Regions from separate parts of the Homo sapiens genome. Here regions 1, 2, 3, 4, 5 and 6 are each linked to region 7. The links come from fine-mapping of genetic effects on gene expression. A gene starts in region 7. Each other region holds a variant in brackets. All regions are shown on one strand. Distances are between the middles of the regions.

Evidence for each region.
Region 1: its variant is fine-mapped to the expression of NAAA in whole blood (INTERVAL, PIP above 0.99).
Region 2: its variant is fine-mapped to the expression of NAAA in whole blood (TOPMed, PIP above 0.99). The same link has a PIP of 0.9 or more in T cells, blood mononuclear cells and monocytes.
Region 3: its variant is fine-mapped to the expression of NAAA in whole blood (INTERVAL, PIP above 0.99).
Region 4: its variant is fine-mapped to the expression of NAAA in whole blood (TOPMed, PIP above 0.99).
Region 5: its variant is fine-mapped to the expression of NAAA in minor salivary gland (GTEx, PIP 0.99).
Region 6: its variant is fine-mapped to the expression of NAAA in sun-exposed skin (GTEx, PIP above 0.99).

Annotation. Positions count from the first base shown.
Region 1 is chr4:75,889,243-75,893,309 of GRCh38, forward strand. PPEF2 (protein phosphatase with EF-hand domain 2) reads right to left here. Exons shown (of 17, transcript NM_006239.3): 3 at 2,609-2,736; 4 at 2,406-2,463; 5 at 715-890. Among named protein-coding and RNA genes, the nearest start is that of PPEF2, 11 kb to the right of the region's middle. The variant A/G (reference allele first, on the strand shown) is at 1,839.
Region 2 is chr4:75,918,398-75,922,464 of GRCh38, forward strand. NAAA (N-acylethanolamine acid amidase) reads right to left here. Exons shown (of 11, transcript NM_014435.4): 6 at 2,554-2,726; 7 at 2,341-2,403; 8 at 1,512-1,578; 9 at 364-392. Among named protein-coding and RNA genes, the nearest start is that of PPEF2, 18 kb to the left of the region's middle. The variant C/T (reference allele first, on the strand shown) is at 2,553.
Region 3 is chr4:75,907,109-75,911,175 of GRCh38, forward strand. It overlaps a transcript of NAAA not described here. Among named protein-coding and RNA genes, the nearest start is that of PPEF2, 6.7 kb to the left of the region's middle. RefSeq lists enhancers at 1,564-2,486, 2,487-3,408. The variant G/A (reference allele first, on the strand shown) is at 1,703.
Region 4 is chr4:75,979,921-75,983,987 of GRCh38, forward strand. SDAD1 (SDA1 domain containing 1) reads right to left here. Exons shown (of 22, transcript NM_018115.4): 2 at 2,013-2,117; 3 at 1,452-1,550. It overlaps SDAD1-AS1 (SDAD1 antisense RNA 1), which reads left to right and starts at 870. Exons shown (of 3, transcript NR_125906.1): 1 at 870-1,045. The variant C/T (reference allele first, on the strand shown) is at 2,421.
Region 5 is chr4:75,320,724-75,324,790 of GRCh38, forward strand. No RefSeq gene overlaps it. Among named protein-coding and RNA genes, the nearest start is that of LINC02483, 31 kb to the right of the region's middle. The variant G/A (reference allele first, on the strand shown) is at 2,221.
Region 6 is chr4:75,999,448-76,003,514 of GRCh38, forward strand. CXCL9 (C-X-C motif chemokine ligand 9) reads right to left here. Exons shown (of 4, transcript NM_002416.3): 4 at 1,828-4,067. All of the region lies in intron 2 of SDAD1-AS1 (SDAD1 antisense RNA 1), which reads left to right. Among named protein-coding and RNA genes, the nearest start is that of CXCL9, 6.0 kb to the right of the region's middle. The variant A/G (reference allele first, on the strand shown) is at 2,360.
Region 7 is chr4:75,938,540-75,942,606 of GRCh38, forward strand. NAAA (N-acylethanolamine acid amidase) reads right to left here and starts at 2,474. Exons shown (of 11, transcript NM_014435.4): 1 at 2,205-2,474; 2 at 1,462-1,626. The coding sequence starts at 2,410. RefSeq lists silencers at 1,757-1,826, 2,227-2,696.

The DNA.
Region 1 (4,067 bases), 49 kb before region 7:
ATGTCATTCCTATGTCTGCTGTCTCCCTGTCTCTTTTGGAAGAATAAAAGTCCACCCCCTCACCTCCATTACTCTTCCCCTGGCTCCCTCTTCTCCAGCCACAGTGGCCTCCCGAGGTTCGTGAACAGTCCAGGCAAGTTTCTGCTTCAGGGCTTTTCCATGTGTTCCTCCCTCTACCTGGAACGCTCTTTCTCCGGCGCATTCCTCACCACCTTAGATCTTTGCTCAGAAATCACCTTCCCAGACAACTCTATAAAATTGCTATTTCTTCCATCCATAACTTAGTTTATTCTTTTCCATAGCTCTCATCGCCTTCTAATATACTGCATAATTGTCTTATTTATTGTTATTTATTGTTCATTGTCTGCCTCCCCGATGGAATGCCAGCCCCATAAGGGCAGAGATTTTATCTGTTTTGTTCACTGCTGTATCCTCAGTGCCCAGAGCAATGTGGGGCACACAGCAGTGCTCAGTAGTTATGTGTGGGATGAATGAACAATGAGAGATTATGTGATTAGGAAGAAAAGCTGTCAATCATCAGAACTGGCTGATTGACTGCAAGGTCCTGGCTAAGCACAGCAGGGGTAGAATCTCTCTAGTGGACACATGACATGAACACCCTAAATCTGGGGCCATTCTTTCTGTGCTGGGTTTCGTCTCCCTTCACACATTTCATGGAGTTGGTAGTGACCCAGGTTCCCCAGGTGAGCTTACTTGTTTCAGTCTGAATGCTTCTACCAGGGCAGTTGCATGGTCAGGCAGGAGTGGGAAGGAGAGGCGTGGCCCCGTGTAACTGTCGGGTACCTCTATGGATTCATAGTCACTGCATTTCTTCATCTCGGAGTCCTGGGCGAATCTGTCCTCAGTGAATATGCGGGTCAGGAAGTCCCCTAGTCCAGATAGAAAAGGTGGATCAGCTTATGATCATCTGATCATGCAGTCTGTGGGCACTATAGAATAGTCCTTGGCTGGGCACGGTGGCTCTCTAATCCCAGAAATTTGCGGGGCCAAGGAGGGAGGATTGCTTGAGCCCAGGAGTTTGAGAACAGCCTAGGCAACATAGGGAAACCTTGCCTCTACAAAAAAAATTTAAAAATTTAGCCAGCCATGGTGTCACACACCTGTAGTTCCAGCTACTCAAGAGGCTGAGATGGGAGGATCACATAAGCCTGGGATGCAGAGGTTTCAATGAGCAGAGATGATACTACTGCACTCCAGCCTGAACGATAGAGTGAGACCCTGTCTCAAAAAAAAAAAAAAAAAGTCCTTCCCTGGACTATTGAAGCAGGACATGGTTAATCTGGCTTCAGCTTCAGCTCCAGCACAGAAGAGGAAAAAGGAAGGAGAAAGTGACAACAGTCTAGGATGGGCAGGAGGAAAAAGTCATGCTTTCTACTTTTATTCTAAAAGATCAAGATTTGTCAGACTTAGAGAGTACAGAAATTTAGGGACCTGGATTTGCAAGCAGAAGGAAAGGGGAAAGCCAGTGTGGAAAAATCACAGGTATTTATGTTGCATTTAGTGAGCGCAACAGGTGCATCAGACCTGGCAGTGCCTTCCAGCAGCTTCCAGCTGCCAGCATTGGCATCTCCAGACTGAGGACTTATTTCCTGGATCCGGATGGCAGGCCAGAAATGCTATGGAATTAACAACCTCCTGGCTTGGCTCAGTGGTTCACGCTTGTAATGCCAGCACTTTGGGAGGCCGAGGCAGGTGGATCGCTTGAGGCCAGGAGTTCAAGACCAGCCTGGTTAACATGGTGAAAGCCCATCTCTACTAAACATATAAAAAATCAGCCAGGTGTGTTGGTGCACACCTGTAATCCCAGCTACTTGGGT[A/G]TCTGAGGTTCAATCACTTGAACCCGGGAGGTAGAGGTTGCAGTGAGCCAAGATCATGCCACTGCACTCCAGCCTGGGTCACAGAACGAGACTCTGTCTCAAAAAAAAAAAAGAAAAGAAAAGAAAAGAAAAAGCCTCCTTCCTATACTTCTCTCCCACCTCCCCAGCCGCTTTCAACCAATGACTCCTGGAGTTGACACAGAAAAACTCCAGTTCCCTTTGCCTGCAGGGGGTATAATTCTGAGGCTTGCGTTTTGCACTGTTTCCTAGGCACACTGAGTTGCTGGACTGGCTGCGATTCCTTTCCTGAATCCCTTCCCCACTCCCTCCCACCCCCAGGGTTTCTTGAACTTAATAAATGAATTCCTTGCGTCCAAACTCTTGTCTCCAGGTGTGTGTTCAGGAGAACCTGGCATAAAACCCCAGTCTGCCATTTACTCCTCAGCCCCTTGCTTATTCCCTGGCTGTCACCAGATTCACGGTTTCACTCCCTGTGCATCCCCCACCTCACCGTGTAATCTATGGCCTTGCGACAGGAGGACATGACATGTGGCAGTTCATACTCACTGTCGTTGTGGCTGCTGGGGATGAAGTGATCCATGAGATAGCTGAAGAAGTCATGGAGCTGCAGAAGAACCCAAGGAGACGTGGCTTTAGAGGTGAGCGAAAAGAGAACCCACAAGTAGTCCAGTTGGCCTCACTTTAGGAGCACCCGAGCCCTGCTGCCCAAGGGAGAGCAGGAGGCGGCTCCGTCCCACATCTCATTGTACCTTGACTTGGTCTTGCTGCCCAGCATATTCTATAGACTGGAAGATGCTCCAGGTGCAACGCCGCCTCATCTCCAGGCGGGCCACGTAGCGCCGGTACCATCTCTGGATCAGGGCTGCTGCCTTGAAGGCTATGACACCGATGGAGAAGCAAGCCTGTGAGCTCGGACTCCCTGGGCCAGGGGTTTGGGGGTAGGGAGAGGAAGCTGCTCAGCCCTCTCCCACTGTATATGTGAGGACAAGATGGAGCAGAAGCACTACCCATTGACGCCCATAGGAAGTATTTCCCTTTCTGCTGGCAATAGTGCTTTTCCCCATTTCCTGCCCCTCCCCTTCATTCCTGCCTGATGGTTATACTCATATCACTGTAGGTTGATTAGAATTCCCATGTATTGATGAAAACATTTCTGTATAGGGATGAAAAGGTTGGACTGCCAGGATTCCGAGAAGGAGATGTAAACTCATGAGATTGCAAGGATGCAGCATCCCTGACAGGTTATAATGCGGGGGTGGGGTGGACATTTTGATATTGTGACAATAGACTGGATGTCAGGACACCTGGGATCTAGACCTAGAACTGCCCTGACAAGCTCTGTGGTTTCAGACAAGTCATCTGGGGCCTCAATGTCCTCATCTGGAAAAGGGGCGGGGCCAGATGAAGACTAGGAAAAGCAAACAATAAACGAATACTCAAATGAATGCATCATACGATGTCAGGGGGTAGCAACTGTGTCCCAGCTCCCATGCTTGCCATCCCCAGTTCCATGATATCCCTACAGGCTTTAAGCACCCCCGTCATAAGATAGACAGCACTGACCATGCAGTCCCCCACATGGCCACTGGGCCTCTCATTTTTGCCAGGACCTGTGCTAGGTGACCAGGTAGGGCAGGTTAGGGTGTGGAGTTTCATTCTTTATATAAGGTTTAGGACCTGTGTGGTCAAGTATTGTTGCCAGAGAAGGGAACAGCTGTCCACATAACTAGATTCTTTTTAAGCTCCAAGGCTTAGATACACTGCTGGTGATGAATGGACTATTTGTGGATAAAGCTGGATTAGAAATCCTGCAGGCTGGATTAGAAATCCTGCAGGCTGACTCAGGTCAACCTCATAAAGAGTAGACAGATTGATTTAATATGTTTCGTTTGCATTAGACAGATAATAGAATTCTTGCTGATTTCCCTAAGAGGAAAGATGATGGTGACATGGGAAAAGAGAAGCTGGGAGGAACTTAAACAAAGATAAATTTGATTTCCTATGAAAAAAATTCATACTACTAGTATTTCTCAAAGGCACTCACTAAATAGTAAGCGATGAGGTTGAACCCCACTGACTGACTTCTGTAAAACCATGTTCAGAATAGTGAATGAGGCTGGGCGTGGTGGCTCACACCTATAATCCTAACACTTTGGGAGGCTGAGGCTGGTGGATCACCTGAGGTGAGGAGTTCAAGACCAGCCTGGC
Region 2 (4,067 bases), 20 kb before region 7:
TGAGCCGAGATTGCGCCACTGCACTCCAGCCTGGGTGACAGAGCGAGACTCTGGCTCAAGAAAAAAAAAAATTCCCAGAGCCTCCTTCAGGGTCACTCTATTCTTTTTACCTTTGGATTTCTTCATGGACTTCTCACCTGATTTATATTTGTTTATCACCACCACCCCCACCCCACCCATATTAGTCCCATGAGAGCAGAGACTTTGTTTTGCTCGCAGCTGTACCCACAGGAGTGCCCCCACAGGAGTGCCCCCACAGCCTGGTTACAGGAGCCCTCAGATCCTTGCTGAGCCAAACAGTACGTGAGTGAGTTCACTGTTCTGGAGTGATGTGTGAACAGACATGTTTAACAAGCCACTTACTTGTTATAAACTGGAACCACCGACAAAATCTGCATAGGAAAAAGTCATTTTATAGAGAAGATTACATGGTAGAAGAAATACACATAGAATATCTATGGAGGGCCGGGTGCAGTGGCTCAGGCCTGTAATCCCAGCACTTTGGGAAGCCGACGTGGGAGGATTACTCAAGCCCAGGAGTTCAAGACCAGCCTGGGCAACATAGAGAGACCCTGTCTTTACTAAAAAAGAAAAAAAAAGAATGTCTGTAGAAAGAACATAACCACTCTTTAGTGTACCTTGAGGTGATATAGACTTTTTTTTTGAGACAGTCTTGCTGTGTCACCTGGGCTAGAATGCAGTGGCATGATCTTGGTTCATTGCAACCTCCGCCTCCCAGGGTCAACCGATTCTCCTGCCTCGGCATCCCAAGTAGTTGGGATTATAGGCACACACCACCAAGCCTGGCTAATTTATATATTTTTAGTAGAGACGGGGTTTCACCATGTTGGCCAGGCTGGTCTCGAAGTCCTGACCTCAAGTGATCCTCCTGCCTTGACCTCCCAAAGTGCTGGGATTATAGGTGTGAGCCACCACATCCGGCCTGACTTTTTAATTCTTTCTCTTTTTTTCTTTTAAACAATGAACATATATTACAACTATGACTTTTTCTTTTTAATATAAAGAAAAACTTTGGTGAAGATGGACATTTTAACTTATATAAAAGCAAGTTGAGAAAATGTCATATAATTTTTTTTTTTTTTGAGACGGAGTCTCGCTCTGTCAGGCTGGAGTGCAGTGGCGCAATCTCGGCTCACTGCAAGCTCCGCCTTCCGGGTACACGCCATTCTCCTGCCTCAGCCTCTGGAGTAGCTTGGACTACAGGCACCCGCCACTACACCTGGCTAATTTTTTGTATTTTTAGTAGAGACAGGGTTTCACTGTGTTAGCCAGGATTGTCTCAATCTCCTGACCTCGTGATCTGCCTGCCTAGGCCTCCCAAAGTGCTGGGATTACAGGTGTGAGCCACCACTTTTAATACATGATTTCAACCAAATAAAACTTTTACCCTAACGTTTTCATCTACCAGAAGATTTCACGGAGTTTTTCATATTCACTATTAACAAAACACCAAACATCCTAGGTATGCAGGACACTGTGACACAAGTTACCTGGAAAAGTGCCTCCAGGCTGAGGTTTGCTTGTCCTGTAGCATTAAGGGCCTTGATGGCAGATGTTCTGTAAGGACAAAGGTCGAAGGTCACTTGGCATTTCAACAAGCACTGAAGCCCATCAGCTGTCATTTTTGGGAGGCAGAATGCAAGCTCCAGTCTCATTATCTCCCTTTCTCCAAAACAGATTCTGGCCCCAAGCCTGTTTCCTGCTGAGGCCCAGCCCACCACAGTGGAATTCATCCAGCAGCTGGGACGGTTGGCACCATCTGCTCCAGAAAGCTGGGATGATGAAAATGTGTGGCTGCAGAACTGAACAGTGGCCAAACTTGTGGGGTAGTAAAGCCAAGGCAACGTATATAGCTACCTGCACTTTGGAACTGTGCTGACTTATAATTATAGAATGTTTACAACTTGAAGGGACAATAAAAACCCTTGACTGGTTTATTTATTGTTTAAATAAGGGAAATAATTTCCTTCTAAAAATATCTTGCCTAGAAGACCATGAACCTGGCCCTTTGCTTTCATTTTACAGACTGGTAAACAGAGGCCCGAGAGCCACCCAGTGAGTCACTAGCAGAGCTGGTGGTGGGCTCTAGGGCTCCTGACCCTGACAGCCTCCCAACACCCGCCCAGCTGCTGAGAGGCTCTGCCCACTGCTCTCCTCCACACAACACTCCCTTCCCAGCCAAGGCACTGGCGAAGGGGCTCAGGTACATTTTCTGGGAGAGGATAGCACCCATAGGTCTTGCCAGTTCCTGTGACAGAATGGGCATATTCTCCTGACCATAAGAAAACACTGCAAACCAGAAAGCACGTAGCAGCCTACCTCCGGTCATCTTCCTTGGGTGCTGGCTTCCAGTGGTCGTAATTTGTCTCAACTCGGAACCACCTACAACAGAGCACATCATCTTGTCTTATCCAAGGCAATTTACGACATAGCAGAGGAGACATATGAACAAATTTAAAATACCCCTCATTTCACCGATTAAAAAAAATGATTATCTGATACAAAATGACCAGAGCTTTCAATTCTACTTA[C/T]GCTCCATTCAAAGGATCTAGAGGCCAAATGTCTGCTGGGCCATCTCTGTTCCTCGTGATGACCACCCCCTCCCGGGGGGACGTGCCACCAACAATGTAATAAACATCAGCAATAAGGGGAGTCTTGGCCAACTTGCCAACAGCTGCTTCGAAGTTTTCCGACTCACTCAGGGTCTGAACGAAAGGATGAACTTGCGTGAGCAACCCCACCTGCAGTTGGGTCCACACCAGATGATGCAAAAATGATCCAAAGCACATTCTCCTGATATGTTATGTCATGACTATCACCTTGATCTGCTCTGACCTTATCCTCTTGTTATCAGGGCTCCTAAGATGGAAGAAATTTCAGCTTCAAAGCGGAGCCAGGAGCAGCAGGAAATTCTGACAGGAGGAGAGAACTGTTGACAAGCCCTAGGCCTGGCTCAGCAAACACCGGCTGTGTGCTCTCCAGGCAGATCGCCCTCACAAAGGACTTTTTGTGCTTCTTCATTCATTTATTATTTAAACAGGGTTTTCTTGAATATCTACACTGTGCCAGGCACTGTGCTGGTGGGGGATAGAGCAGTGAATGAGTCGCCTGGTCCTATTCTCCCCAAGCCTCTGAGGAAGACAGAAAAGTCAACAACCAATGGTGACACAGTGTAATGAGAGTTCACATAGGAGAATAAGATGCTATGGACGTCACAGTAGGGGTCCCATCCTCACCAAGGGCAGTGGAGGAGGTACTGCTGGGAAGCATCGCATGAATTGAAGCTAAAGAGACAAACACAAGTGAGTGGTGAAAGTGGTGGTTGCAGGGTGAGGAGTGGCAGTGGGGAGGAGGGTTCTAGTTCGATGGACTAGACTGGCAAAGGCTTGGGGATGAAAGAGCATGCGCTACATTAGCGCCCTGAGCTTAACTGGTGTTCAGACACCCCGAGGGCGCATGATGACTTCCAAAGGCCTGTGGCAAGGATACTTAAGGGGATCACTCCCCAAATCTTCAGATTCCATATGGGCTCCTTCCTAGAGCTGATCTGCTCAAGAATATCCTTCGGTGGAGGGCCTGCTCTTCCTGTCTCCACCTTCACAACCACTCTGCTGCCATGTTTTAAAGGAAGTACACTGTATGCTCACCCATCCTGGATATTGCCAGGGCACATTGTCAAGGGTGGAGGTGGTGATAGGGTCAAACAAAAGAACAATTCAAGGTATTGGTGTCTGCAAAGGCTCCGTCATTCAGCACCATAAACCTTAACAGCAATAACCATAAGGCAAGAAAACTCTACAAAACCCATGGCAGGGCTTTGTAGAGTTTTCCTGCCTTATACTTAGCTATGCAGGGAGGCTGAGGTGGGAGAATTGCTTGAACCCAGGAGATGAAGGTTGCAGTGAGCCGAGATCATGCCACTGCACTCCAGCCTGGGTGACAGAGTGAGACCCTGTCTCAAAAAAAAAAAAAAAAAGAAATGATCTGTCCTAACTTGTTTGACTGTAGGTCATATGATCCCCTTTCCAGAGAGGATCCTGCCCTGT
Region 3 (4,067 bases), 31 kb before region 7:
GAAATAAGAATTATTTTGAGCTAGGCGGGGTGCAGTGGCTCATGCCTGTAATCCCAGCACTTTGGGAGGCAGAGGTGGGCGGATCACGAGGTCTGGAGATAGAGACCATCCTGGCTAAGATGGTGGAACCCTGTCTCTACCAAAAATAAAAAAAATTAGCCGGGTGTGGTGGTGGGCGCCTGTAGTCCCAGCTACTCGGGAGGCTGAGGCAGAAGAATGGCGTGAACCCGGGAGGCAGAGCTTGCAGTGAACCGAGATCGCGCCACTGCACTCCAGCCTGGGCAACAGAGCGAGACTCTGTCTCTTAAAAAAAAAAAAATTATTTTGAGCTAAAGGCAATTAAAAAGCAGCAAACAGGCTGGGCATGGCGGCTCACGCCTGTAATCCCAGCACTTTGGGAGGCCGAGGTGGGTGGATCACCTGACATCAGGAGTTCAAAACTAGCCTGGCCAATATGGTAAGGCCCCGTCTCTACTAAATATACAAAAATTAGCCGGGCATGGTGGCGGGAACCTGTAATCCCAGCTACTTGGGAGGCTGAGGCAGGAGAATCGCTTGAACCCAGGAGGTGGAGGTTGCAGTGAGCAGAGATCATGCCATTGCACTCCAGCCTGGGCAACAAGAGCGAGACTCTGTCTCAAAAAAAGAAAAAAAAAAGCAGCAAACAGTATGCAGTGGCTCATGCCTATAATACCAGTGATTTGGGAGGCCAAGGCAGGTGGATTTCTTGAGCTCAGGAGTTTGAGAACATCCTGGCCAACATGGCAAAACCCGGTCTCTACTAAAAATTCAAAAAAAAAAAAAAATTAGCCAGGCCTGGTGGTACACGCCTATAATCCCAGCTACTCAGGAGGCTGAGGCACAAGACTTGCTTAAACCCAGGAGGCAGAGTCTGTGGTGAGTGGAGATCATGCCACTGCCCTCCAGCCTGGGCAACAGAGCGAGACTCTACTGCACTCCAGCCTGGACAACAGAGCAAGACTCTGTAGTCCCAGCTACTTGGGAGGCTGAGGTGGTAGGATTGCTTGAGTGCAGGAGTTTGAGGTTGCAGTGAGCTATGATTACGCCACTGCACTCCAGCCTGAGCAACAGAGTGAGACCTCGGCTTTAAAAAAATAAAAAAGAAGATAGTCTTGCTCCTCTTCTTCCTCTTTCAGGAAGGACAAAGGCTAATCCCCAGAGACAATTCTAGATCCTTATTGGCCTGGACATGGCACCAGAGAAATCTACATACCAAACTGTACAAACTAGGCTTTATCTACTGTTTAAGTCAAATAAAATATAGAGACAAATTTAACATTTTTTGGGGGAAGCAAGAATTGCAATTCCAGGTCGTCCACAGAGACAGGGTGATCTTCGGTACGTTCAAAGAACAAAGAGAAGGTTGGAAGTTTTATAAAAAGGAGAAATGTTACATATTGTTTTGAAAGAATGTTCATCAGCGCTAGTAAAGTTTTGGGAAGGGGGCAAACTCTGATTGGTGAGTGGTTGCAGTGGGTAAAATTAATCTTACAGTCTTAGCAGCTGTTTCAGTAGCTACTAGATAAAACTGGTTTCAGGTTTTAACGACGGTTTCAGCAGTCAAGCTTGCCAAGAATTGCATTCTTGGAGCAATGTTTTGTGCCCTGTGTGCTTTTTCTTCCTGTCCTCTAAATGCCCTTTTATAATTAAAAAAAAATTTTTAGAGACAAGATATCCTGTC[G/A]CCCAGGCTGGAGTGCAGTGGTGCAATCATAGCTTAACTTCAGCCTTGACTTCCTGGGCTCTAGCAATTGTCTCAAGTAGCTGGGACTACAAGTATGATCCACCACACTGGCTAATTTTTTTGTTTGTTTTTTGTAGAGACAAGAGTCTCCTTACATTGCCCAAGCTCCTAGTCTCAAGCAATCCTCCTGCCTCAGCCTCCCAAAGCGCTGAGCTACCGCACCTGGTCTTGACTTTTTTAGTTGGTCATGACAAGAATGACCCAATTCATATAATTAACTTTTTTTTTTTTTTTGAGACAGAGTCTCGATCTTGTTGCCCAGGCTGGAGTGCAATGGTGTGACCTCGGCTCACCTTCACCTCCACCTCCCAGGTTCAAGTGATTCTCCTGCCTTAGCCTCCCAAGTAGCTGGGATTACAGGTCCCCGCCACCACGCCCAGCTAATGTTTTTGTATTTTTAGAAGAGATGGGGTTTCACCATGTTAGCCAGGCTGGTATCAAACTCCTGACCTCAGGTGATCTGCCCGCTTCAGCCCCACAAAGTCCTGGGATTACAAGTGTGAGCCACCACACCCAGCCAATTAACTTTCATCTATCTTTTGTTACTATATGTTTTCCTTCCCACAATTTGCTGCCCCGAGAGACTCAAGGTCCTTTTCCTTTGTCTTGTCACTTCTCTAAAAATTTATAGTTCCTTTGCTAAGATGCCATATAAAAACAAGTTCAAAACAAACCTTTGAGTTACTCTTCTCTGGGTACTCCATATTGCGTATTCTGTACATATGTTAATCAACTTCTATTTGTTTTTTCAATTGTTAATCTTTTTTGTTGTTATGTTAATCTGTCTTTTGTCAGTCTAATTTACAAGGCCCCAGCTGAGAACGTAAGATGGGTAGAGGAATTGATTTTTCCTCCCCCACAGCGAGACCATCTTTTTTAATTTTTAGAGTCAAGTTCTCACTCTGTTGCTCAGGCTGGAGTGCCGTGGCATGATCATAGCTCACTGCAGCCTTAAACTCCTGGGCTCAGGTGATCCTCCCACCTCAGCCTCCCATGTAGCTGGGACTACAGGTGCACACCCCCATTCCCAGCAAAGTTTAAACAAATTTTTTTTTTTTTTTGAGACAGAGTCTCACTCTGTCACCCAGGCTGGAGTGCAGTGGCGTGATCTCAGCTCACTGCAACCTCCACCTTCCTGGTTCAAGCAATTCTCCTGCCTCAGCCTTCCAAGTAGCTGGGACTACAGGTGCGTGCCCAGCTAATTTTTGTATTTTTAGTAGAGACAGGGTTTCACCATATTGGCCAGGTTGGTCTCGAACTTCTGACCTTGTGATCCACCTGCCTCGGCCTCCCAAAGTGCTGGGATTATAGGCGTGAGCCACCACGCCCAGCCTTAAACAACATTTTTTTTAGAGACAAGGTCTTGCTATGTTGGCCAGGCTAGTCTCAAACTCCTGGGCTTAAGCACTCCTCAGCCTCCCGAGTAACTGGGATTACAGATGTGAGCAACTGTGCCTGTCTGTCTTCTTTTTAAAGGATGAATAATATTCCACTGTGTGTACATACCACATTTTCTTTATCCATTCATGCCTAGATGGACATTTAGATTGTTGATAAGAGTGTTACTTTCCTCCTGATATTGGAAGGACATCTTCCAAATGGAGATTTTATCTCTTGTTTTCAGGAAGAAAATGGGGAGGGTCAGAGTGAATTTCTTTTCCCTGCTGGTTTTGTAAGTGCCTTTAGCTCAAAATAGTCCTTATACCAAAGTGGCATATTTGGGGTAGTGTGTTCTGAGCTCCTTCAGCATACTTAAAGTTCAGGAGAAAAGACACAAGAGAATGTAGGTGAGCAATTCTGAGATAGCTGACTATTTTCCAAAATTGAACAAAAGACACAAACTTGAAATTTGGGGAGCACAACAAATCCCAAGCAGGCTTAAACAAAATTCAATATCTGGACACATTGTAGTTAAACCACGTGACACTGTTATCACTGTCACACACATCTGTGTGAAGAGACCACCAAATAGGCTTCATGTGAGCAATAAAGCTTTTTAATCACCTGGGTGCACGTGGGCTGAGTCCAAAAAAGGAGTCAGCAAAGGGTGGTAGGATTATCATTAGTTCTTATAGGTTTGGGATAGACGGTGGAGTTCGGAGCAATTTTTTGCAGGCAGGAAGTGGATCTTACAAAGTACATTCTCAAGGGCGGAGAGGATATTACAAAGTACCTTCTCAAGGGTGGGGAGGGTGTATCGTACAAAGTACATTCACAAGGGCGGGGGAATATCACAAAGTACATTATTGCAAGGGTGGGGAGGGTGTCTTGTCACAAAGTCAATTGATCAGTTAGGGTGGGGCAG
Region 4 (4,067 bases), 41 kb after region 7:
AGCCTCAAACTCCTGACCTCAAGCAATCCTCCTGCCTCAGCCTCCCAAGAAGCCGGGACTACAGGTGCACCTGGCATATATATTAATTTAATAATGCCCACAGACCAGTTTGGTGGGGTACTGCCAGGAAAATAAAACTTAAAGAAATCCTAATTACTTGGAAAGCCATTAAGTCTCTATACTCAAAATATCAAATCTCTATGACCTACAAGGACTTCAAGAGTAACATGACATAGGTAAAAGCCTTTAGACTAGGGGTTCAAGTTTGGAGTCCCTTGGGCTATACTGCCAGGTCCCATGTACCAGCTGAGTATCAATCAGTTGACAACCCAGGGCCTGAAACCTTGGCTTGTCTGAGACAGTATTCTTTTTCTTTTTGGCCTAATCAAATTACTAAAATCCTAAAGTAGTATAAAAATGATAGAAATACAAAAAACCTGAGAAAGTCTAAAAGAAAACAAATATTCATCTAAAGACTTGGCATTTCTACAAGTTGTGCTATAGGATATTAGTACGTTTTGTGATCATATTTGCGTACTTATCTGCTGTAAAGAGGTTTGAAAAGCAGATGTATTAAATTTGGAAATGTCTTAGTCCCTAGAAGCAGAGACTGATTTATTACAAGTGATTTGTTGGGGGTATGATCTCAGAAAGGAAGTGAAGGAAGGAGGATAGTGCAGAGACACGCAAAGCAAAGCAAGGATGTGCCCTTGACTGGAGACTAGCTTTAGTCCCAACACAGGAAAACACTGGAGCACATCCTGCATTGGAGTCAGAGCCACCCTGAGGTAATGGGCTGGGCTTTTGTACCACATGATAATGGGCTGTGGGCTACTAGGGTAGGAGGACACCTCCCAGGCACTAGGACTCCGATTTAGCTGAGGACAATGTTGCAGAGAAAGGGCAGCTGAGGGCCACCAGCAGCTGACATTCACAACAAGTGGGGCAAACAGGTACACCGGCCTCGTGAAGGGAATGTCAGCCAGGACTCAACCCCAACCACTAAAAGGACAATGATGAAATGCTCAAACTGACTGTCTAATGGGTAAGTTTACTAATTTAAGGCATTATAAAAATGACAAGTTGTGATTAGGATTCTACATGCATATGAGATTTGAATGACTAGAAGAAATCATCTCAAAAGGTTAAAGAGCATCCTGTAGGGTTAGTGTGCTGGAAGAATAGAAAGATCACAGTGTAGCTGAAAACAATATGATATCAGAAACACAGGCTGGAAGCAGATCATGCAGGCACTTTTGAGCCAGGTTATTAAGTTTCCGTTTTACTCTAAGTATAAATGAGAAGCCATAGAAGGATTTTTAGGAAAGGATAATACATTATAATTTACGTTTTCTGAAGATAATTAGCTTAGAGGCTGTTCTCATTTAAATATATATGAACGCAGCACACATGAACACAGCACAATTTATTCATCCAACTACTGGTCCTACCATTCGCAGATCTGGATCCAATACGGTATGATTGCAGGAGAGAAGATCTTTCACCTCTTGAGGAAAATTACTTAGGTACTCTGGGTAGCAGTGACTAATCTGTAACAAAGCAAAGGCTCTTCTGAAGTTGCTCTCTTTCTCTCCTATAATTCAGATGCATACATTTAGGATGTTCTGCAAAACGAGAGTAAAAGGCTATGTTTCATAGAAGTAGATGGTTCCAAACAACCTTCTTTTCCTTCTACATGTTAATTTCTCCAACATTTATCATGGTTTCTCTAGTCTTAGTAATATTTATGGCATGATTTAGTACCTGCTTTTATGATGAATTTGAAGAAAAAAAATAGTCTTAAAGTTTTGTCCTGGTTAGTTATGCAAAAAGATCTAGTGACATTCTCTAACTCATGATAGGGAGAAAATAAAATTTGCAAAAAGGGAAAGTTAGAAAAATATTTTAATTAAGTTCCCATTCCAGAGTGGAATAAGGTTGAGTATTAGTGAAAAAACATTCAGCAAACTGTGTGTTAATACTGGTCTTTATTTAAGCAATTATATTCTTACCTGTGCCATAAACATCACCAGCTCTGCTAGTTCTTTGCTGGGTTTATTTGGTTGCAATTTGAAAATCTCCACATTGGATTTGTAGTGATTATACTGCTGTAGAAACTGCAGAAAAATAAAATTTAAGTTTGTCACATTGTATTACATGACTTTCTCAGTACAGACATTCAGTAGAGAAATTCTTAGTAGAAACTGTTGACGATCACATGGAGAAAAAGATAATGCAAAAGTATATAAAAACACTCCTTTTGCCTTATCTGCATTCTTCAAAGTGCGCTTTTTAAAGACCTGAGCACATCACAGATAATCTAAAGAACTTTTCCTTGGAATTATCACTACAAGTTTAGGCAGCATGGTGTAAGAACAGAGAAGCATGAATCCCAAATTCAGATTGTAGCCCTGTTCTGC[C/T]AGTTACTATCTAAATGATCCCGACTGCTGGGTGTAGTGGCTCACACTTGTAATCCCAGCACTTTGGGAGGCCAAAGTGGGAGGATCACTTGAGCCCAGGAGTTCGAGACCAAACTGGGTAACACAGGGAGACCTTGTCTCTACAAAAAATACAAAAATTAGCAGGGTGTGGTGGCGTGCACCTGTAATTCCAGCTACTCAACAGGCTGAAATGGGATGATCACTTGAGCCCAGGGAGGTTGAGACTGCAGTGAGCTATGATCATGCCACTGCACTCCAGCCTAGGCAACACGGAGGCCCTGTCTCACAAAATAAAAATAAAAATAAATGACCCCTACTACCATATCCATGTATGCAGAGCACTCAAATCAGCAGAAAAATAACAGGGCAGAAATATAAATTATATCTCAAGTACATGAAGCTCTCCAGTCAAAATCCCACCCCCCCACTGCCACCCCTTTTTAAAAATTATACTTTTAAGTTCTGGTATACATGTGCAGAATGTGCAGGTTTGTTACACAGGTATACATGTGCCATGGTGGTTTGCTGCACCCATCAACCTGTCATCCACATTAGGTATTTCTCCTAATGCTATCCCTCCCCTAGCCCCCCACCCCAACAGGCCCCAATGTGTGATGTTCCCCTTCCTGTATCCATGTGTCCTCACTGTTCAACTCCCACTTATGAGTGAGAACATGCGGTGTTTGGTTTTCTGTCCTTGTGATAGTTTTCTGAAAATGATGGTTTCCAGCTTCATCCATGTCCCTGCAAGGACATGAACTCATCCTTTTTTATGGCTGCATAGTATTCCATGGTATATATGTGCCATATTTTCTTTATCTAGTCTATCATTGATGGGCATTTGGGTTGGTTCAAAGTCTTTGCTATTGTGAATAGTGCTGCAATAAACATATGTGTACATGTGTATTTACAGTAGAATGATTTATAATCCTTTGGGTATATACCCAGTAATGGGATGGCTGGGTCAAATGGTATTTCTGGTTCTAGATCCTTGAGGAATTGCCACACTGTCTTCCACAATGGTTAAACTAATTTACACTCCCACCAACAGTGTAAAAGAGTTCCTATTTCTCCACATCCTCTCCAGCATCTGCTGTTTCCTGACTTTTTAATGATTGCCATTCTAACTGGCGTGAGATGGTATCTCATTGTAGTTTTGATTTGCATTTCTCTAATGACCAGTGCTGATGAGCTTTTTTTCACTGTTTGTTGGCCGCATAAATGTCTTCTTTTGAGAAATGTCTGTTCATATCCTTTGCCCACTTTTTGATGGGGTTTTTTTTTTCTTGTAAATTTGTTTAAGTTCCTTGTAGATTCTGGCTATTAGCCCTTTGTCAGATGGATAGATTGCAAAAATTTTCTCCCATTCTGTAGGTTGCTTATTCACTCTGATAATAGTTTCTTTTGCTGTGCAGAAGCTCTTTAGTTTAATTAGATCCCATTTGTCAATTTTGGCTTTTGTTGCCATTGCTTTTGGTGTTTTAGTCATTAAGTCTTGCCCGGGCCTATGTCCTGAATGGTATTGCCTAGGTTTTCTTCTAGGGTTTTTATGGTTTTAGGACTCTTGTTTAAGTCTTTAATCCATCTTGATTTAATTTTTGTACAAGGTGTAAGGAAGGGGTCCAG
Region 5 (4,067 bases), 620 kb before region 7:
TAATTAAAGTAATATGCTGAACAATATATTTGCATGTAGTCCCATAAACAGTAACATCTCTGTTACATGAAAAGCATATGAAGAAATAAAAGATTGGAAGAAAATCCAACAAAATGTTAATAACAAATTGTAGGATTGTGAGGGATTTTTATATACTTTATTGTATTTAAATTATATTTACCAAAAACATGTACTAATTTTTTTAGATATAAACCTATTATATAGTTCTACGAACCTGCCTTTTTAAGGGGGAGCCTAGACAGGACTTCCAAATTCTCCATTTGGAATCTACTTTTCCTTCTATTTTGTCTTCTTTAGTTTTCATAATAAATAGGAGACAAATCAGAGAGGAATGGCCTCAGCTTTCTGCTGTGTCTCTACCTCTCTCCCTTGCCTACAGTGCAAAGAATAAGATGTCAGACAACCAGGTCAAGTGCTGCCTTTACATTATTTTCTCTTCTCTTTTCTGCCCCAAGCCTGTTTTTGCTGTCTCCCTTGCCTGCATATGTAACCCCTTCCTGTCTAAACCATCATCCTTCCCAGCCCTCTGCAACTCTTAACTCTCCTGGTCCCTGTGGGCTACCTCCAACTCCTACCCTCTCTCCATTTCACTCACCAGCCAACATTTTTGAGAATGGTCTAGATACTTCCCTTCACATTCTCACATCCAATTCACTCTTCAACATCATTAAATTTCCTTCCACCCACCACACTCCACTGAAACTGCTCCTGCAAATATCACCAGGAATTTGCATATTGTCACATAAAACGGACACTTGGCATCCTTATTTTTAAAAGCATCTTTGCTAACTTTTGCCCATGCGAATCCTTTTGCCTGGAATGCTCTTCTTCAGCCCGTTTGCCTTACTAACTCCTCTTCCCTGTTTTGCTACAGTAACTTCTCTCTTTTGGGTCTCAGCTTACGTGATGACAGGCCAAAAAAGTCTTCCATAAATCTTCTTTCTGCACCTCAATAAAGATAAGCTCCCCTTGGGGATTCTCATACATGGCTGGTGGAAACAAGGAGTTTCTTATAAGCGTATATTTAATATATGACTCACCAATCTCACTCTTAGGTATTCATCCAAGAGAAATGACAGCATATGCCACACAAAGACCAGGACACAAATGTTTATAGCAGCTTTATTTACAATTCCTCAGAACCTGAAACAACCCAAATGGCCTCCAACTGACAAATGAGAAAACTAACTGTGGTACATGCATTTAATGAAGTACTATTCAGCAACAAAAAGGAGCAAATTACTGATACATGTAACAACATGGATCAATCTCAAAAGCATTATGCTGAATAAAAGTGGCTTGATGCGAAGGCTAAATGCTCTCTGATTCCTTTTATAGGACATTCTTGGAAAGGCAAAATTATAGGGATATCAGAATGTGTGGGAAAAAGATAAAAGGAAATAAAAAATAAACAAGAAAACCAAAAAATTAAAAATTTGGCCAGGCGCAGTGGCTCACGCCTCTAATCCCAGCACTTTGGGAGGCTGAGGCTGGTGGATCTCTTGTCAGGAGTTTGAGACCAGCCTGGCCATCATGGTGAAACCCCATCTTTACTAAAAATACAAAAATGAGCCAGGCGTGGTGGCCCATGCCTGTTATCCCAGCTACTTGGGAGAAGGAGGCAGGAGAATCACTCGAACCCGGAGGGTGGAAGTTGCTGTGAGCCAAGATCATTCCACTGCACTCCAGCCTGGGCAAAAGAGCATGACTCTGCCTCAAAAAAAAAAAAAGAAAGAAAGAAAGAAAATAAAATTTTTTAAAGAAAAAATATTATAGGAGTAGAAATCAGATCAGGGGTTCCCAGGGGCTGAGTGTGAAGGAAAGTAATTGACTACAGAAAGGCTCAGGAAAACATTTTAGGATAATGGAAATATTCTATATTTTGATGGTGGTTATATAACTTATATATATTTGTCAAAATTTATAAAATTGTACCCCTAAAAGGGATAAATCTTACTATATGTAAATTCTACTTCAATAAACCTGGCTTTGAAAAAGAAACAGACAAAAACTCGGGTCAGGCTCATCTCTCCAACAAAACTTCTACGACTTTATCCAACTCCAGACTGGTTTGGGAATCTCCTTAGTTTCCATAGCAGGTGGTGCCTATGTGTTTCTTTCTGCATGTATCATATTACATTGAAATTATCTACTTTAAACAAAATTTTTAATATTTTTTTAATGTCTAGCTCTCCTACT[G/A]GATGGTGAGCTCATTAAAGTAAGAAACCATATTGTATTTGTCTTAATATCTACACACTTCACTCTCCCATCCTCCACCTTCCACTTAACCCACCATTGTCAGCATATTGATCAACCAGTGATCAAAGACCTTTCTCCTCTGATCTGCTTAGGAGGAGATCCAATGAAATCTCCTAAGTTCAGAACCTTTCTTCATGAGTTGGCCTCATCAAAATTCTCTGTTTTTATTACCTTCCAAGCCAATATGACTAAACAATTCTTAACAAGGTATTAACAACTAATGGTAAGTTACATTTATATAAAGTACATAAAATTTTAGCATAGGTTTTCAATATTTTATTTTAAAGATAGGATCCCAATGGTAGAAATATTTGAGGTGAACTAACAAACCTATAAAGGAGATATTTTTAGTGGAAGCAAATCAGTGTCTCTTGGATCTATGTAAGAATTGCTAACAATTACATGGGAACACACTAATTTTTTAAAGTAGAGAGTGATGATGTGTTTGAAAGTTTTTTGATTCCTAATAACTTATGTTCACAAAGCCATTATTCAGCCGGGAGGAGTAGAAGAAGTTGGGAAGGGTGGGCATGACACAGTAGCAACTTTATGTTCTATGCCTCCTCTGGTATCATTAGGACCCCTTGTGCACTTCAATTATAGACCAAAACCTACCCTTTATCTTTGCTACTTTCTAATGAGCATCCTTCATATAAAAGGAGTGGGGAAATAGTTCATCGTGAAAGAATGACATGCTGCTATTATTTTCATTCAGCCCATTAAGAAGACCTCCTTCCACATATACGTATGCTTCTTAAAAACCTACCAAATTATTCCAGGTTGTATGATGTATTATAGTGGTTCCCATCTGGTAGTCAGGCCTTTCACGAGTAGCCCAGGAAGGAAGCAGGGGTTTCACAACCATTACTGAGAATTCACTTGTCTTCCATTTTACTCTCCTCCTGTAAGGGTGATGTGCTGGATCCAACCACACCCTGTCTGCCATAGATTGTTCACCCCTTAGCCTGCTAGTTGTATATCACACTCATGGCAGCCTGGCAGAAATGAGACAGGATGGCATTCTGCAAAGGAGGCTGCTTGCCTAGCTTGCCCGATCAGAGCATCAAAATTTTGGGTGTGACAGTGAAGTAGGGAATAACCTATCTAGGTGTTTTCCTGAGAAAAGGGCCAACAGTTTCTATTCAATTCTCAAAGAAATCCATATAATTTAAAAGTGATGCTTTTAGAACTTTATAAGATGATATTAATAAAGTAAAACTAATATGAATAAGAAAAATTATACATATTAGAAGGCATCCTATTATTGTAACTACAGAGTAGTCAATTAGCACCTTTTGGGATCTACTCGGGGAAGAGACCTTCCTCGAATCAATAGGGTGTGTGCCTCCCATCCCTGCCTAATAATTTTGATCAATTAGTGATCAAAGACCTTTCTCCTCTGGTCTACTTAGCAAGAGATCCAGTGAAATCTCCTGGTAAGTTCAGAACCATCTTTCCTTACAGTTTACAAAACACTTTGACCCATCTCATTTGATTTTCATTCCCATTATGAGACATGGGAATTTTTATTCCTATTTCACACATAAAGAATTGAGGCTGAAAGAAGAAAAGAAGTTGGACCCCACAGCTACTTTCTACTTCCCTTCCATGGAAATTAACTCATTGCCTCTGTAATTCGACCTTAAGATGACCTTGTCTTTTCCTTCTAAAGCTTCTCTTTATGTTCTTTCAGCCAACACTTGTACAGATTCCTCAGCCTAGATTTGTTTGTAGCTTGCTTTCTTGCTTTCTGATCAGAAATCTAAGTGGCAGAGACCATGCCAGGG
Region 6 (4,067 bases), 61 kb after region 7:
GAAGCACTGGGACAGTTGGACAAATAGAGCTTGTGTGAAAAATCCAAGAAGTTAAGCCCGTTCAGCGCCAAATTGGGGCTGCTAGGGTCTATGGGAGCTGTTGCTTCTGTGTAACTACCGCCTCTGTGGGTCCACTGCCAAATATCTGGGTGGGGGGCCTGGGACCATCACTGATCATGAGGCCAGCAGTCCTGAGCATAAGCTGAACATGGAGGAAAAGAGCAAGGACAAGCTGGGATCCACTGGCTACCAGTGTGTCTGTCAATATGTCTAATCAAGATTAAGGGTCACTCCTTCACTTTTGATTTCCAAATCTCACATGAGTTCTTCTTTGGCTAACTATAACCTGGAACCACACAGGGAAGGAGATTCTGGGAAATGTAGTTGTAAGACTAACCAAGTTGATATAGTACAACCCAGAACCACAGGGAACAAAAACCCCAGAAGGCAATGAATTCAGTGTGCTCAAGAGACATACAGAAAAAAGGTGATGCTGAGGCTCAACAAAGGAGGGGAGGGTAGAGGGAGCATGATTAGATAAGCAGGCAGATCCCAGCTTATGTTAGGCCAGCTCATGGTATGTTTTGACTTAATGCTAAGCTGCAGGATTTTAAGCAAGGTGGCAGCATTCTGTAAGTTATTTTTTAAAAAGATTATTCTAGTTGTCATGGAAGTTAGGGAAGCAAGAGAAATGTTGAGAAGAAGAGCCAACAGGGAAAACAGCAGGCTACTGAGGTAGCTCAGGAAAGAGACAATGATGGCCTGGACTAGGATTATAAAATACAGATATTGAGAACTGGTCAGGAAGCCTTTTAGTCTCATTTCTCCAACATGTTTTTTCAGTGCTGGAAACATTTCTCTCTCTATGAGATGTAGGATCCATCTGCTGCAAGGAAGATGCAGCAGAGGTAAGTGGTTAGGGAGGATCTGGGACAAACATTGAGGACTTTCTCTGCACCAAGACCTATGCTGAACCTGCTCCTCACAACAATCTGGAATGAGGAAAATGATGCACTGGGAGGTTAAATATTATACTTTAACCAGGGTCACACAGTTAATAAGTAGTGGGCCCCTGATTCTAACCAGGATATCTCAGAATCCAGGATCTTAGCTCCTTCCAGAGTCCTGTTGCCTCTCAGGTGAAGGCCCTTGTGAGAATTCATGTCTACCATTAGCAGCTGTTATCTGCCCGAATATTACACCTGTCTGGCCTCTAAAGTGTACATCAAGTGTACAGGCTGATGCTCTTCGTTCCACTCTCAACCTTCTTAGAGACTCCACGCTGCGTAATGCCTCCAGCCCAAGTTTCCTGGACCCTTAAATAATTCATTCAGTGTTTAGGTCTCCATCATAACTACTTGAGGCTTTACAATATTTAAACATATACAATTTTAGGGATAGAAAAGAAGACGTGTTGGCTTCCTGGGGACACACCTCATTGGAATAGTGTTACTCTTGAGGATTAGGAAATACATTGAATTCTACATAATGCTTTTTTTTTTTTTTTTTTGACAGAGTCTCACTCTGTCACCCAGGCTGGAGTGCAGTGGCATGATCTTGCCTCACTGCAACCTCCACCTCCCGAGTTCAAGTGATTCTCCTGCCTCAGCCTCCCAAGTAACTGGGACTATAGGCGCATGCCACCATGCCCAGCTAATTTTTGTAATTTTAATAGAGATGGGCTCTCACCATATTGGCCAGGCTGGTCTCAAATCCCTGACCTCAAGTGATCCGCCCACTTCGGCCTCCCAAAGTGCTGGGATTATAGGCGTGAGCCACTGCGCCCAGCCCCACATAACTCTTTTAAATCAGTGTTGTTGTAAGGCAGTGTTGTCATATTTTCCATAGGTTTTTTTTCCTGTTCCCGATCGACCCTTTAAAGAGCTTTCATGTGTTATCTCAACTAGTGTTACACTTTATTTGAGAGAAAGCTAAAAAGTAAATAAGGACATATAAGATTTACTATTAAACATTCAACAGTTGAAGGGTACATTCAAGAGAAAAAAAATCAAGATCTGTTTTCTGATTAATGGTCTATTTATTGATACCATTCTATTTTAACAAAGAAAATATTTCAAATTACAAGGTATACAAGTCAATACTGTTTTGAAGTGAAAAATTATTTGCTTTGAGAGTGTATGCATGTATGTATATATATGATAAATGATTATAACGTGTGTGTCAGTGACAATATGTAGTCTTTGGTTGTTAGTTATATACTGTCTACCTGTGAGATGCAAGGTAAGTGGGTCACAGACTCTCAAATTTATGAAACACTTAGATTTTTCAGGGAAGTTACATGAAGGAACTAGGGAGTTTCATGATTAGATAAGACGTTCGGGTGGGATCTCCACCGGAC[A/G]GCACTCTAAATCATCAGCAGTGTGAGCAGTGATTCAATTTGGGAAAGTGAGTATAGGTTTAAATTCTGGCCACAGACAACCTCTCCTACACAATTCACTGAACCTCCCCTGGAAGGAGGTTTCCACATCCTGCAGAGGCTAACTGGGCACCAATCATGCTTCCACTAACCGACTTGGCTGCTTCCTCTAGCGCTTAGTACTTCACCGTTCCCTTTCTTCATGGGAGATGGTGTGGTAATTGATAATCACAATACAAACTCTGAAACAAGTAAACGGACAATAAAACTCATATTTGCCTAAAATGAGTTTCGATAAGGATCTCGGTGGCTATCTTGTTAGATCTTAGAAAGCTGAGGCTTATTGAGAAAGCCCTTTTCCTTCGGGAAAAGGAATTTTTGTATGGTTGGGAAAAGGTTGGTCACTGGCTGATCTATAAAGTCCTTTTCATTGTAAGATTATATGATTTTCGGTAAACTGTATATTTTTTAAAAACAGTCCAGAATATCCGCAAGTGTTTTACCACGTGCTTCTTATTGTTGGAGAAGCTGAGCAAACATCCTGTCATAAAAAGACAAGGATGTTGCATCATCCCTGGTCCCTGTAGTGAGTGTCCTGAAGATAATAAGTAAGAGGTTACCAGAGGCTAGCCAACATGGAGTAGCCAGGAAAGAGCCAGCACCTGCTCTGAGACAATGGTCTGGTTGCCATCCTGCCCATAACAACATCAATTAAAAAATTATTAAAACCTAGTTCCACAGTATTATTAGGCACTGTGGAAGAAACAGGGAAATATACTGTGGCTCTTGCCCTCAAGGAGCTGACAATCTGGTTGGAGAGATAGGATAAACACCCAAGAATTAGTTAACCATTGAGTGTTCACCCATGTGGTACTGAACCAAGTGAAACAGGAGTTTTAAGATAATTTGTGTGTCCAAAAAGGTTTATTTAAGAGGCAGGACTTGAACTAAGCTGGACTGAGTGAGGATGAATTGGGAGAAGAAAGCACTTCTGTGGGGTGTTGGGGACAAGATGAGAAAGGAGTTGACTCAGATAAATCAGAGCATATGACAGGTGCACTGGAGAGAAGAAAGGCACTGCATTGTGGTAGGATGGAGAAGAGCTGACTTGAATGAAGCAAAGGGGAACAAAAAGAAATAAAGTGGTCAGCCTGAGCGGGCAAGATGGAATCACATGGCTTCCAAAGCCAGAAAGGAGGCTCTGAAAGCCACACACTGGTGATCTCCAGTGGTGATACCCAATAACAATCAGCATGAATCTCTCAGACACATTGTGTGTGAGGCCTGTAGGCTGATTCAAATACAGAGGTTGATGGCCACAGCAGCTTGGTGAGGTCCAGCTCAATTTCAAACTGCTTGGCTCACCAGCATGCTAACAGGCTTAGGACTTGCTGACATGTGCCTCAGATACTCTCTGGAGGCTGCAGTACGTGGAAGCCTAGGGCTGCTCTTCCAGGCAGCTGTTGTGAGTGGGATGTGGTTGGGTGAACATCTGTGTAGACATGGGTATTGCTAAAATCATGGCCTTAAGCATGATGAAATTCAACTGGTGGGTGGTAGAAGAACAAAGACAATCATAGCCTTTAACAATTCTTAACGTTTGGATTCTTAAAATCAACTTTCTAACTTTAGTTACAATTTCAGAGTAATGTTTTAAATTTTCTAGTCAAATTAATAAGCCTTTGTATTA
Region 7 (4,067 bases):
AGGAAGGCAGTCCCAGTGCTTTTTAGCTTACTCTGCCTAGGTGTTCTGGGAAAATGCCTGGGCCAGTAAAGTTTCATTATTCCAAGATCTTTTCTACCCCCATCATCTTTAGGCAGCAAGAAGCTCTAAGTATGTACAAGAGGTTACGAGATGAAGCTAGTCTGCTGGCAAAACAATAAGTATTGAAGGAAGAAACCAAGTCAAAACCTCTCTTTATTCCAGGGCCTATTACTGAGCCCATAAACCTTTAGTGGTCCCCTGCACTTTGCCTGGGATCAACCACACACTCCATGTTGCTTTCACTTCTGGGTGCACTTTTTTTCTTTGATATGGAATCTCGCTTTGTCGCCCAGGCTGCAGAGTGCAATGGTGCCATCTTGGCTCACTGCAACCTCTGCCTCCTGGGTTCAAGTGATTCTCCTGCCTCGGCCTCCCAAGTAGCTGGGATTCACAGGTGCCCGCCACCAGGCCCTGGTAATTTTTTTGTATTATTAGTAGAGACGGGGTTTCACCATGTTGGCCAGGCTGGTCTTGAACTCCTGACCTCAGGTGATTCACCCGCCTCGGCCTCCCAAAGTGCTGGGATTACAGGCGTGAGCCACCGCGCCCAGCCTGGATGCACATTTTATCATGCCCACTTCCCGGTCCAAACACTGGCTGGCCCTATTAGAGCAGTGTTCCCTGTCGCCCCAGCCCTGGTGGACACAGACACTTCAGCCACGACACACATGAAAGGATAAATGCAGGGCGACAAATAAGGGCAGAGATGAGCCACTGCCAGTATAGAGCTGGAAGGCCACTGAGTTAACTAAAGGGTCCAGATGAGAGGAGGCTTAGTTTCAAAAACTTCCTGGAAAAGTACGTTTTGAGCAGAATTTTTTTTTTTTTTTTTTTGAGACAGAGTCTCGCACTGTCGCCAGGGCTGGTGTGCAGTGGCGCGATCGCGGCTCGCTGCAACCTCCGCCTCCCGGGTTCAAGTGATTCTCCTGCCTCAACCTCCTAAGTAGCTGGGATTACAGGCGCCCACCACCACGCCTGGCTAATTTTTTGTGTTTTTCGTAGAGACGGGGTTTCACTATGTTGGCCAGGCTGATCTCGAACTCCTAACCTCGTGATCTGCCCACCTTGGCCTCCCAAAGTGCTGGGATTACAGGTGTGAGCCAACGCGCCCGGCCTTTGAGCAGAATTTTAAAAGTACGCTACCTGGATTGGGGAAGAGAAAACCCGGGGCTACACGTAGAGGGAAAGTTTAGTGTTGAATCGGAGAATCTGCTTTCCCTCTCGAAGCCTACGATGTGCAGCTCAGATTTACCCAGAGAGGCAAAGAGGAAGCGCTGGAGGTTTCTAGGCAAGCAGGCACCGCCCTGTTTTTATCACACGGAAAATATGTCTCCTCCCGCTAGTCTGTGTCGGGGGCCCCCGCAAGCCCCGCGTTACTCCGCGCGGGCTTGGGGCACTCACACGGAGGACTCGTAGGCCAGGTTGACCAGAAGGCAGTCCGCCAGGCTGAGGTTCATGAAGTCACACATGCCGCGGATCTCGCCGGTGAAGGGCTGGGGCAGGAAGCGCTCCAGCTCCAGGACCACTTTTCCGATTAACACGTGCACCCACTTGGGGACTCTGTCCCTAGAAACAAAAAGCACAAGGGCGTCTGACCCGCTCAGAGGTCGGCGGCGTGCGACTGCGTGTGCACTGCGAGCGGGGCTACATCCTTAGGGCGTGAGGTCTCAGGGCCACTGCTCCCCAGTCAGTGGACCGCCCAGGCGCGGCGTCACTCAATCTGCAGCCTCCCGGGAGTGGGGGGAAGGGGGCGGGGGGAAGGCGGCGGGTAAGAAAACTCCGAATGGGGAGGGCGAGTGAGGCTGGTCCCAAAGGGGCAAGCTTGGAAGGCCCGCGAGGCCCGCAAGGAAGGCGCGGGTTGCCCCTCCTTGGTAGCTATGCAGCCCGGGCGACAACTCGCGCGCCACGCTGACCCGGAATGGCTCAAGGACTGGCGTGCCACGGGTGACACCGAACTTGAAAGCCGAACCTGCCGCGCTGGATTCTCCCCAACCCGGACGCTGCTCAGGGCGGCAGCCAAAACCAGTTCTCCAAGGGTGGCGGGGAGTAAAGCGTCCCCGTTTAAAGCACTCTGAGCAGCGCGCGTTTGACTCCGACCCGCAGGGCCGGTGTCCCCGCAGACCCCGTCCAGGGCCCCAGCTCACCCGATGACTTGCGCCATCGCGGCGCGCACCAAGTCCAAGTCGTAGTGCCGCAGCACGGGCAGCCAGCGCAGCTCGGGGACCGAGTCCAGGCTCACGTTGAAGCGCGGCGCTGCTGGGGGCGAGGCGGCTGACAGCCCGGCCCCGGCCAGCAGCAGCAGCAGCAGGGACGGAAGCCCCGGGCGCGCCTCCCGGTCCGCGGTCCGCATGGCTCGGGCTCCAGCGGCCGCAACTTGGAGACCTGCAGCCGCTGTCGGAGCCCGGGTAAGCCGTGGAGGAGGAGGAGCTGGGGCTGGGCTGCGATCGCTGGAGGTGGGGCCCGCGCACGACCCGCCCGCCCCTGTCACCGGCAAGCCGGAGCGGCGACACCTCCCGTCCCCGCCGCGCATCCACTAGCCCGCCCCGACTCTCCATCGGGCCTGGAGGTCCCTGACCGCGGGGCCGCTAAGGGTTGGGGCTGCCGGCAGCCGGCTTCTCACCAACTGCCGGTTCCAGCGCACCTGCTTGGGCCGAAGGAGTGTAGGCTGCGGCCGGGAGGGGCTGTAAGATTTTCAGTAGCGAAAAGGTGTCAGGAAAGACTTTTCAGTTAAACTTTGTTTGCTTGTTTGTTTGTTTGTTTGAGATGTAGTCTCACTCTATTGCCCAGGCTGGAGTGCGGCGGCGAGATATCCGCTCACTGCCAACTCCGCCTCCTGGGTTCAAGCGATTCTCCTGCCTCAGCCTCTCAAGTAGCTGGGATTACAGGCGTCCACCACCATACCTGGCTAATTTTTGTATTTTTGGTAGGGACAGGGTTTCACCATGTTGGCCAGACTAGTCTCGAATTCCTGACCTAAGGTGATCCACCGGCCTCAGCCTCCCAAAGTGCTGGGATTACAGGCGTGAGCCACCGCGCCTGGCTGGTAAAACATTTTTTTAAAGCTCAAAATTTAGTGAACATTTATCTGCTAAATATTTTTCGCGGACATTATCTCATTTAATCATCAAAACAAGCCAACAGGTAGGTTCCACTAATCCTCGCTTTACTGATGAGGAGTGTGAGGCTTGGAGAGGTGAAGCCATGTACCCGAGGTTACTCTGCTGGTGTGTCTCTGCACTGGCCTCCAAGTAAGGAGGTCTGAATCCACAATCCACCTTCACACCTAAGTTTCTTCACCTTTGAGTTCCCAATGTCTGGGAGACAAACTTAGGAAAATCTTAGTAAGGCTGGGACATTCTTAACGGTTAGCACAGTTGTCTGTGGGTAAAACAGGGTACATGTGTACATGAATAGTAGAAACTAAATGAAAGGGCCGGGCATGGTGGCTTAGGCTTGTAATCCCAGCAGTTTGGGGGGCTGAGGCGGGTGGATCACCTGAGGTCAGAAGTTTGAGACCAGCCTGGCCAACATGGTGAAACCCTGTCTCTACTAAAAATACAAAAATTAGCCGGGCGTGGTGGTGTAATCCCAGCTACTTGGGAGGCTGAACAGGAGAACCTCTTGAACCTGGGAGGCAGAGGTTGCAGTGAGCCGAGATTGTGCCAATGCACTCTAGCCTGAGTGACAAGAGCAAAACTTTGTCTCAAAAAAAAAAAAAAAAAAAAAAAAAAAAAAAAAAAAAAAAAAAAAAACTAAATGCATAGTAGAAACTAAACACATTTTTTTTTTATTTTTTACCAATTTTAGGATGAAGAAATACAACTTTTATAATCAATCACTTGTTTTTAAGGATAACACTTAAAGGAATTACAAAATTTCTTGCCAGACATGGTGGTTCACGCCTGTCATCCCAGCACGTTGGCTGGCTGATCATCTGAGGTCACTTGGTTTAATGAATAGAATCAGAATTGCTGGTGGTTGACTTCCAAGACTAGGTCACAAAAGAC